2 separate regions of the Homo sapiens genome follow, and region 2 is linked to region 1. Evidence: fine-mapped expression QTL. A gene starts in region 1. The other region holds a variant in brackets. All regions are shown on one strand. Distances are from middle to middle.

Region 1 (5,256 bases):
CTCCGCTTCCCGGGCTCAAGCGATTCTCCTGCCTCAGCCTCCCAAGTAGCTGGGATTACAGGCATGCGCCACCACGCCCGGCTAATTTTGTATTTTCAGTAGACAGGGTTTCACCATGTTGGCCAGGCTGGTCTCGAACTCCTGGCCTCAAATTATACGTCCGCCTCGGCCTCCCAAGGTGCTGGTATTATAGGCGTGAGCCACCGCGCCCGGTCCAGTGTTGGTTCTTAAACGCGAGAATTGAGATCTCCCTTCACCTAATGAAAGTCTCGGCCACTATCGCAACATTCAGAACACCCAGTCTGTGTTGCACAATATGTTACTTAGGTATAAATCAAGGATTCATGTAATTTTGTCATTCCTTGCGTGATATTTTAAAAAACATTCTGTGTAAGGTATTTATAAAGCGTTTACTATTATCCGCAATCACAGGGGCTTGAGGAAAAACTTTGACTGTGGCCGGGCACCGTGGCTCACGCCTGTAATCCCAGCACTTTGGGAGACCGAGCCGGGTGGATCACTTGAGGTCAGCAGTTCGAGACCAGCCTGGCCAACATGGTGAAACCCCCGTCTCTTCTAAAAATACAAAAATTTGTGGGGCGCGCTTGTAGTCCCAGCTACTTGGGAGGCTGAGGCAGGAGGAATCGCTTGAACTCGGGAGGCAGAGCTTGCAGTGAGCCGAGATCGCGCCACTGCACTCCAGCCTGGGCAACAGAGTAGAACTCCGTCTCAAAAAAAAAAAAAAAAAAGAAAGAAAGAAAAAAAAGTGGACTGTGAAAACTGAAAGGACTAGAAAAACTACACTACAAAGATACAGAAACCAAGAAAGCACCATAGCGTTTGCCTTCAACTGCTTCCCAACTTGTTTTCCTCTTCCAATTTGATTGTGGTTTCCTCTCCAGAAGGAACTCCACAGTACTTAGCGTTGGCCACATAGTAGGTTCTCAAATACTTGTTAATAAATAAGTTTGTTCGAGAAGCTGGGCAATGATATTCTACAGCTGGAAGAAGAAACATAATGATCTAGTAATTAGCTCATTAAAAATAAACGTTCTTCTTTCCTCAGAGGAGCATTTCCCAAGGCCTGCCTTGATAGCCATCCAAAAAGGCCAAGCTCATCCAATCTTGCCCTAGATTTATGCTAAAATGCAGTTACAATCGATAGGATGACAGAAAACGACAGCACTTATTTAAATATAATAGGCACTTATTTAAATAGGAGAAGCTGTGACTTCATAGCAAGTGTTGGGGTTAGGAAACTGGGTGGATAAACTTGCTGATGCTGTAGATCTTAGCCTCTACATGAGATCATGTGGAAAATCTGAAAGCATTTTAGGTTCCTTATGTTTGCAATCAAATAACTGTACACCTTTTAATTTAAAAAGTACCATGAGGCACACACACACACTCGCAGGAACTTTTTGGCGTAACAAAACTAGAATTAGATCTAAAGCTAACTGTAGGACTGAGTCTATTCTAAACTGAAAGCCTGGACATCTGGAGTACCAGGGGGAGATGACGTGTTACGGGCTTCCATAAAAGCAGCTGGCTTTGAATGGAAGGAGCCAAGAGGCCAGCACAGGAGCGGATTCGTCGCTTTCACGGCCATCGAGCCGAACCTCTCGCAAGTCCGTGAGCCGTTAAGGAGGCCCCCAGTCCCGACCCTTCGCCCCAAGCCCCTCGGGGTCCCCGGGCCTGGTACTCCTTGCCACACGGGAGGGGCGCGGAAGCCGGGGCGGAGGAGGAGCCAACCCCGGGCTGGGCTGAGACCCGCAGAGGAAGACGCTCTAGGGATTTGTCCCGGACTAGCGAGATGGCAAGGCTGAGGACGGGAGGCTGATTGAGAGGCGAAGGTACACCCTAATCTCAATACAACCTTTGGAGCTAAGCCAGCAATGGTAGAGGGAAGATTCTGCACGTCCCTTCCAGGCGGCCTCCCCGTCACCACCCCCCCCAACCCGCCCCGACCGGAGCTGAGAGTAATTCATACAAAAGGACTCGCCCCTGCCTTGGGGAATCCCAGGGACCGTCGTTAAACTCCCACTAACGTAGAACCCAGAGATCGCTGCGTTCCCGCCCCCTCACCCGCCCGCTCTCGTCATCACTGAGGTGGAGAAGAGCATGCGTGAGGCTCCGGTGCCCGTCAGTGGGCAGAGCGCACATCGCCCACAGTCCCCGAGAAGTTGGGGGGAGGGGTCGGCAATTGAACCGGTGCCTAGAGAAGGTGGCGCGGGGTAAACTGGGAAAGTGATGTCGTGTACTGGCTCCGCCTTTTTCCCGAGGGTGGGGGAGAACCGTATATAAGTGCAGTAGTCGCCGTGAACGTTCTTTTTCGCAACGGGTTTGCCGCCAGAACACAGGTAAGTGCCGTGTGTGGTTCCCGCGGGCCTGGCCTCTTTACGGGTTATGGCCCTTGCGTGCCTTGAATTACTTCCACGCCCCTGGCTGCAGTACGTGATTCTTGATCCCGAGCTTCGGGTTGGAAGTGGGTGGGAGAGTTCGAGGCCTTGCGCTTAAGGAGCCCCTTCGCCTCGTGCTTGAGTTGAGGCCTGGCTTGGGCGCTGGGGCCGCCGCGTGCGAATCTGGTGGCACCTTCGCGCCTGTCTCGCTGCTTTCGATAAGTCTCTAGCCATTTAAAATTTTTGATGACCTGCTGCGACGCTTTTTTTCTGGCAAGATAGTCTTGTAAATGCGGGCCAAGATCTGCACACTGGTATTTCGGTTTTTGGGGCCGCGGGCGGCGACGGGGCCCGTGCGTCCCAGCGCACATGTTCGGCGAGGCGGGGCCTGCGAGCGCGGCCACCGAGAATCGGACGGGGGTAGTCTCAAGCTGGCCGGCCTGCTCTGGTGCCTGGCCTCGCGCCGCCGTGTATCGCCCCGCCCTGGGCGGCAAGGCTGGCCCGGTCGGCACCAGTTGCGTGAGCGGAAAGATGGCCGCTTCCCGGCCCTGCTGCAGGGAGCTCAAAATGGAGGACGCGGCGCTCGGGAGAGCGGGCGGGTGAGTCACCCACACAAAGGAAAAGGGCCTTTCCGTCCTCAGCCGTCGCTTCATGTGACTCCACGGAGTACCGGGCGCCGTCCAGGCACCTCGATTAGTTCTCGAGCTTTTGGAGTACGTCGTCTTTAGGTTGGGGGGAGGGGTTTTATGCGATGGAGTTTCCCCACACTGAGTGGGTGGAGACTGAAGTTAGGCCAGCTTGGCACTTGATGTAATTCTCCTTGGAATTTGCCCTTTTTGAGTTTGGATCTTGGTTCATTCTCAAGCCTCAGACAGTGGTTCAAAGTTTTTTTCTTCCATTTCAGGTGTCGTGAAAACTACCCCTAAAAGCCAAAATGGGAAAGGAAAAGACTCATATCAACATTGTCGTCATTGGACACGTAGATTCGGGCAAGTCCACCACTACTGGCCATCTGATCTATAAATGCGGTGGCATCGACAAAAGAACCATTGAAAAATTTGAGAAGGAGGCTGCTGAGGTATGTTTAATACCAGAAAGGGAAAGATCAACTAAAATGAGTTTTACCAGCAGAATCATTAGGTGATTTCCCCAGAACTAGTGAGTGGTTTAGATCTGAATGCTAATAGTTAAGACCTTACTTATGAAATAATTTTGCTTTTGGTGACTTCTGTAATCGTATTGCTAGTGAGTAGATTTGGATGTTAATAGTTAAGATCCGACTTATAAAAGTTTGATTTTTGGTTGCTTCTGTAACCCAAAGTGACTAAAATCACTTTGGACTTGGAGTTGTAAAGTGGAAACTGCCAATTAAGGGCTGGGGACAAGGAAATTGAAGCTGGAGTTTGTGTTTTAGTAACCAAGTAACGACTCTTAATCCTTACAGATGGGAAAGGGCTCCTTCAAGTATGCCTGGGTCTTGGATAAACTGAAAGCTGAGCGTGAACGTGGTATCACCATTGATATCTCCTTGTGGAAATTTGAGACCAGCAAGTACTATGTGACTATCATTGATGCCCCAGGACACAGAGACTTTATCAAAAACATGATTACAGGGACATCTCAGGTTGGTGGGATTAATAATTCTAGGTTTCTTTATCCCAAAAGGCTTGCTTTGTACACTGGTTTTGTCATTTGGAGAGTTGACAGGGATATGTCTTTGCTTTCTTTAAAGGCTGACTGTGCTGTCCTGATTGTTGCTGCTGGTGTTGGTGAATTTGAAGCTGGTATCTCCAAGAATGGGCAGACCCGAGAGCATGCCCTTCTGGCTTACACACTGGGTGTGAAACAACTAATTGTCGGTGTTAACAAAATGGATTCCACTGAGCCACCCTACAGCCAGAAGAGATATGAGGAAATTGTTAAGGAAGTCAGCACTTACATTAAGAAAATTGGCTACAACCCCGACACAGTAGCATTTGTGCCAATTTCTGGTTGGAATGGTGACAACATGCTGGAGCCAAGTGCTAACGTAAGTGGCTTTCAAGACCATTGTTAAAAAGCTCTGGGAATGGCGATTTCATGCTTACACAAATTGGCATGCTTGTGTTTCAGATGCCTTGGTTCAAGGGATGGAAAGTCACCCGTAAGGATGGCAATGCCAGTGGAACCACGCTGCTTGAGGCTCTGGACTGCATCCTACCACCAACTCGTCCAACTGACAAGCCCTTGCGCCTGCCTCTCCAGGATGTCTACAAAATTGGTGGTAAGTTGGCTGTAAACAAAGTTGAATTTGAGTTGATAGAGTACTGTCTGCCTTCATAGGTATTTAGTATGCTGTAAATATTTTTAGGTATTGGTACTGTTCCTGTTGGCCGAGTGGAGACTGGTGTTCTCAAACCCGGTATGGTGGTCACCTTTGCTCCAGTCAACGTTACAACGGAAGTAAAATCTGTCGAAATGCACCATGAAGCTTTGAGTGAAGCTCTTCCTGGGGACAATGTGGGCTTCAATGTCAAGAATGTGTCTGTCAAGGATGTTCGTCGTGGCAACGTTGCTGGTGACAGCAAAAATGACCCACCAATGGAAGCAGCTGGCTTCACTGCTCAGGTAACAATTTAAAGTAACATTAACTTATTGCAGAGGCTAAAGTCATTTGAGACTTTGGATTTGCACTGAATGCAAATCTTTTTTCCAAGGTGATTATCCTGAACCATCCAGGCCAAATAAGCGCCGGCTATGCCCCTGTATTGGATTGCCACACGGCTCACATTGCATGCAAGTTTGCTGAGCTGAAGGAAAAGATTGATCGCCGTTCTGGTAAAAAGCTGGAAGATGGCCCTAAATTCTTGAAGTCTGG
Region 2 (5,000 bases), 230 kb before region 1:
CCTGTAAAGAGTGGGATAGTAAATATTTTAGGCTTTGCAGGCCATATGGTCTCTGTCCCAACTACTTAACAATGCTGTTGCAATGCAAATGTAGCCAGACACAATTTGTAAACAAACGAGCACGACTATGTTCCAATAAATCTTTATTCACAAAAACAGGTGTCAGGCTACATTTGGTTTTTCTGCCAGGGTTTGCTAACCTCTAGTTTAAAAAAAGGAATAAAATGTATTTCCAAATTGTTCAGTGTTCGTTCTAGGTGAACTAAACTAAATTTGACTAAACTTTACTAAAAACATGGAGCAAAAAAACACAGTCTTTTCGTAGGAAGTACAAGTTTCTCTTATGAAACAATTTTCCTTCACTTTCAAAATAATTTTATCTGCTTCAAAATGAGTATTTGTGTTAACTGTAGTTCATCAAATACAGTTCATGCTCATTCACTCTGCCAACAACTGGAAAAAAGACCCTAACCTGAAGGCTTAAATACTTGGGCAGCATGTCTTTTAAGCAAACACCTCCCCAGGCAAGAGAAGCATAACTCATGTCTCCTGAGCTCTTCTTTCCCCAATATGGTCACTCTTCCATGGGGAAAGCTCTCTCTTAAAAACCTGCTCCAAAGCACATCCAGTAGAAACTCTCTGTTTCTACTGGATGTAAGACGGCCTTGATTAGATTTTCTAAACAACTTCTAAAGCAGAAGTAGAAAATAAGAGTCAGCAGGTATTCTTAGCAACCTCTGTAATTTCTCTACCTCTTGTCCCTGAGTCAATAATTCATTGTGAGGGTGTATGTTACAGAAATTAGACAAATGAAGTGGGAAAGAGAAAACACATTATTTTTACCACCCTTTTAAGAAGTATGTTATGACTAGAATACAAATTGAGACATGTGAATTACTACAACCATCTATTCCAGTTACAGAATTTTTCTTCCCTAACCATGATGCCATCCAACTCTTGAGTTTCTATTTTTAACAGATTTGAAGAAATATAGCATATTACATGACCATTAAAAAATATATTTTAAAATGCAGGTCAGTTTCTTTCAACTCTTGCTTCTGGAGTAAAAAGCAATGCCAGAATCAAAACTAAGGTGCTGGTTGGATTATTTCTGTTTGTTCATTATGTTCTTTTATGGTCATTTCAATTCCCTAATAGTTTGTTTTAGCACTACTCTCCAGTGTCTGGATGTACCTTTTACTTTAAGAAAGGCACTGAATTTGTTAAATCTGCACATAACGGGAGGTTAAAAGGGAACTATTTCAGACTCAGTTTTGCGTTTAGCCCCCAAGACAATAGATGTCAACTATGTCCACCTTCCACAGGTGAAGGATGCAGGACCTGTAAAGGAGGTTTCCAAAAACTGGTTTTGTAACTCTTAACCCATCACCAAGGTGGAAAGGTCAAGATAAAAATAAAACTAGAAGGGAATTTCAGGAGAGAGCTTTCGATGAGCTAGGAGTGGCACTCACCCCACCCTGGGGCATCAGGTAGAGTTGCTTGGCCCTCATTTCAAGCCTAGGGAAACGGGCTTCCATAGACAATGCAGACAACTAGGTATGTGTCCCTGGGAGCATCCTCAAGCTGTCAGTGAGCAGGCTGTTGACACACCTGAAAACTCTAAAGGGTATAATATTTGTGCTGGCAGTGGAGCTAAGAGTGTGCTATGCTAGGAGTGGTCTGCATCTCCTGAATGTTCAGGATCAGAGAAAGCATGAGCATTTTCCCTCAACTAGATATGCCAAAAGAGCAAGTCAGCATGGAACTGTTTTCTATCCTGATCAAAACAGCCTTAGTAGGAATAAGGCAAGCCCTCAGAAGAGGGAAGCTGAGGTGTGTGATCTAGATGCCCAGCAGCTAAAGATGGAGTTATGAGCTGCCATTTGGAGGAGACAGATTCAAAAGCATCCAGGGTACTTTGGATGAAAGACCTCCCCACAATCTTAAGGGTCCTCCTAGGAATACAGAAAGGAGTTCTAAAAAGGAAAAATGTAGTTTTAAATGCCGTCTTAGCCCAGACAGGTCTCATGCAGATGACAACAGTATTACATTGAACCATATTAAATTGACATTTTTGCAGGACAAATATTAGCAAGTTCACATGACTCATCCTTATACATCAGATGAGAATTTTGTTACCCCTCACTTCTCTTTCCTCCACCCAATTCAGTCTGGAGGAGTCAAAGGCAGCCTAGTGAGTTGGAGGCAGGCATCCAGACCAAAGAAGACCCGAGCTGGAGAAGGGAGCATTTTATTTTATTAGACTGGACATATTAATTACTGAATGTAGACTGTGTATATGAAAGTAACCGAACATGACAGGACCTTTTGTTACCAAAGAGTAACCATAAAAATGATGAGATTTTCCCTACATTTTATCCAAGGAGTAGGGAAGAATTCGTCCCAAAGAACAGGACAAAATGGCACAAAAATAATGTGCTTTTTTACTTCACCTGTCAAGTAATAAATGTTCAACCTCACAGTTACACATAAATAACTGGGCATGAATATGTTAAGTAAGAATAGGAATACCATAACATAAATGAAATTATATTGCTGCTGCCTCCACCAGATAATCATATTAATTCTCTCCTTCTTAGGAACAGAAGTTGTAGACTATTATATACATTACCCTACATTACATAGCTATGTTATGTATAGCTATTTATGCGCTTTATTGCTCTTGAAATCTCGATTCTGCCTCTCCCATTTCACTGACCCCAGAAGATGCTCGGTATGCCAGGTTGCTTTCCTCTAACCGCCTG[T/C]CACCTTTCTCAGGCCTCACTCCCTTTGAGGCCTCTGCAGCACCTGGAAAGCCACTCTCTCTGAATCTCTTGCCCTCTGCTCTGTGCCTGAACTTGCTTGCTTTTCTCTTCCCAAAACTGGCTGTTCTTTCTCTATTGCTTTGGATGGCTTCTCTGCTTTGCTCCTAAATGTGATTTCTGATGGCTCAGTCCAAATACATCTAGCTCATACCACTCACCCAAACTGAGCTTCCATCCCTAACTTCCCTAGAACTGATATGGGTGATTCTCCCAAAGACCCAACTTGAAATTCCCAGGTACCTTTTGCTCCTCTTTCTTCTCTGCTCCAATCGAAATCCAGTCACTAATCCTAATGATTCTGCCTTTAAGTGTCTCTTGAATTCATCCATTCCTCTTTAATTTTTTCTGCTCTCTTACCGCAGTCCCCCATTACCTTTGAACTTACTAACACTGAAGGTATTCGATTATAAGCTAACATTGAAGGTATTCGTATATTTGTTAAACAATAATACTAACCCCCTGGTAGTCTCCTGGACTTTAGTTTCTCTCCCTCTAATCACCCTACATGCTGCCACCAAAGTGATCTTCCTAAAATACAACTTTAATCATGTCATACTTTTACATAGAAACTTTCTACTAAAGCAATAAGAAGACAACACATACTGATGATTTTTGTTTGTTTGGAAGTTTACCATAAGGGTGTCATACTTTCTACACTATCATGTTTGGATGTTTTTACCTTACTCATGCATTACTTTTATAACCAGAGGAAAATTATGAAGGTATGATCCTATAACTTTTATAATTTGAGAGACCCATTCACACACATTTTGTTTCCTTTGTCCTCAGAAGTCCTATATTGAAATTTGCATCACTGATTGAAATTCAAAGTAAAATACACAAAAGTTTTTAGAGCTGCCTGTTGTCTACAAAATGAAATACAAAATTTCAGCCTGATAGCCAATATCCTCCACAGCTCGGCCCACAAACTTCCCCACCTTTCTCTTCAACTACTACTCTCTACAAGCCCTCCATGCCAGCCAGTGCCTGCTCCCAGCCCCACAGCCCTGTCAGCCAGCTCAGAGCCCACCACTTCCCATCCAAATCCTACAGTCCCCTCCAGCCCTATCTTGGACTTGTAAAGTTGTGAAGATCCTTAAAAATCCCTTGATCCAAACCCCTTATTTTACAGCTGAGGAAACGGAGACCCACAGCTGAAATGCCATGCCCACCATCACTTAACTAGAGCACAGTACCCAGGTCTTAGGACTCCTAATCTAATGCTCTTTGCATTTGTTACACGAAGCTTTTCTGATTGTAAGCTCCTTGAAAGCCAGGTCTGTGTCTTGTCACCTTTAGATGTGTACTGACTGGTGTTTCTTCCCACCCTCGCATACAACACAAAAGCTTCATATTTTTAGCTTTATTCCGATCCCTACTAACCTGACTATGCCTAAACCTATTGCCTACGTAATAGCAATCATGTAATACCCTATTTTTCCCCTCTTTTATTTTTACCATAAAATTGGGAGAGCTTAAAAATAAAAAAGAAATCACAATGGAAATATCATCCTGTAAAAGTGTCAGCTGATGTACACTGTCCTACTTAGAGGAATGACAGAGTCAATAGGGTTTGCAAAATGAGAGAAAATGTTTATTAACATTTACATCATCCTTTCCTTCCCTTTCCTGTTTAGAGTCTAAACACCTGTGGTCTAAACTGTAGTTGCAACATATTTCTCTATGGGGTTCAACCCAAACTCAGCATCAGAATCAGCTGTGGTGGGTTTAATAAATAGAGGTGTCCAGTTCCTACCCCAGAGCTACTGAATCAGAATTACCAGGGCTGAGGCCCAAACACAACAAATGCATTCATTCATCCATTCCTTCAAGAGATATTCATTGCGCCTGAGTGGCAGGTGTAATGGGAATACAACCCCGCATGGACCTTCTGATCTAGTGGAAAGAAGGATATTTATCAAATAACCACATATGTGAGTATGTATTACAAATTATGATAAAAGCTGTGAATTAACATTTACAGAGAGTTATGAAATCTGGAGATGAGATGGGAAAAACAGAGTCAGATCAGGTAAGACCCTGTGTAGGCCATGGTAAAACATCTGAATTTTGTTCTGAGGCCAGTGGAAAGTCTTTGGACAGTTTTAAGCTGGGGAATAACATGATCCAGCTAATGTTGAGATTATTTTTACTGCTGTGTAGATAATTGGTTGC

Alleles and levels. Alleles are on the strand shown, and positions count from the first base shown. SD is a standard deviation of normalised expression in the study named.
With allele C in place of T in region 2, the expression in rectum of the gene that starts at base 2,328 in region 1 is lower (large effect, 0.86 SD a copy in CEDAR).

Evidence for each region. PIP is the estimated chance that this variant, and not a neighbour inherited with it, causes the effect. A credible set is the group of variants that fine-mapping cannot tell apart.
Region 2: its variant is the best candidate, but not a certain one, in a credible set for the expression of EEF1A1 in rectum (CEDAR, PIP 0.71).

The regions. Positions count from the first base shown.
Region 1 is chr6:73,518,104-73,523,359 of GRCh38, reverse strand. EEF1A1 (eukaryotic translation elongation factor 1 alpha 1) reads left to right here and starts at 2,328. Exons shown (of 8, transcript NM_001402.6): 1 at 2,328-2,360; 2 at 3,304-3,477; 3 at 3,844-4,023; 4 at 4,132-4,428; 5 at 4,512-4,662; 6 at 4,750-5,006; 7 at 5,096-5,256. The coding sequence starts at 3,334. RefSeq lists a silencer at 1,571-1,800 and enhancers at 1,523-2,345, 2,381-2,460, 2,511-2,620, 2,346-3,167, 2,911-3,210 and 1 more.
Region 2 is chr6:73,748,254-73,753,253 of GRCh38, reverse strand. The region is part of intron 5 of CD109 (CD109 molecule); the gene reads right to left. Among named protein-coding and RNA genes, the nearest start is that of CD109, 55 kb to the right of the region's middle. The variant T/C (reference allele first, on the strand shown) is at 2,766.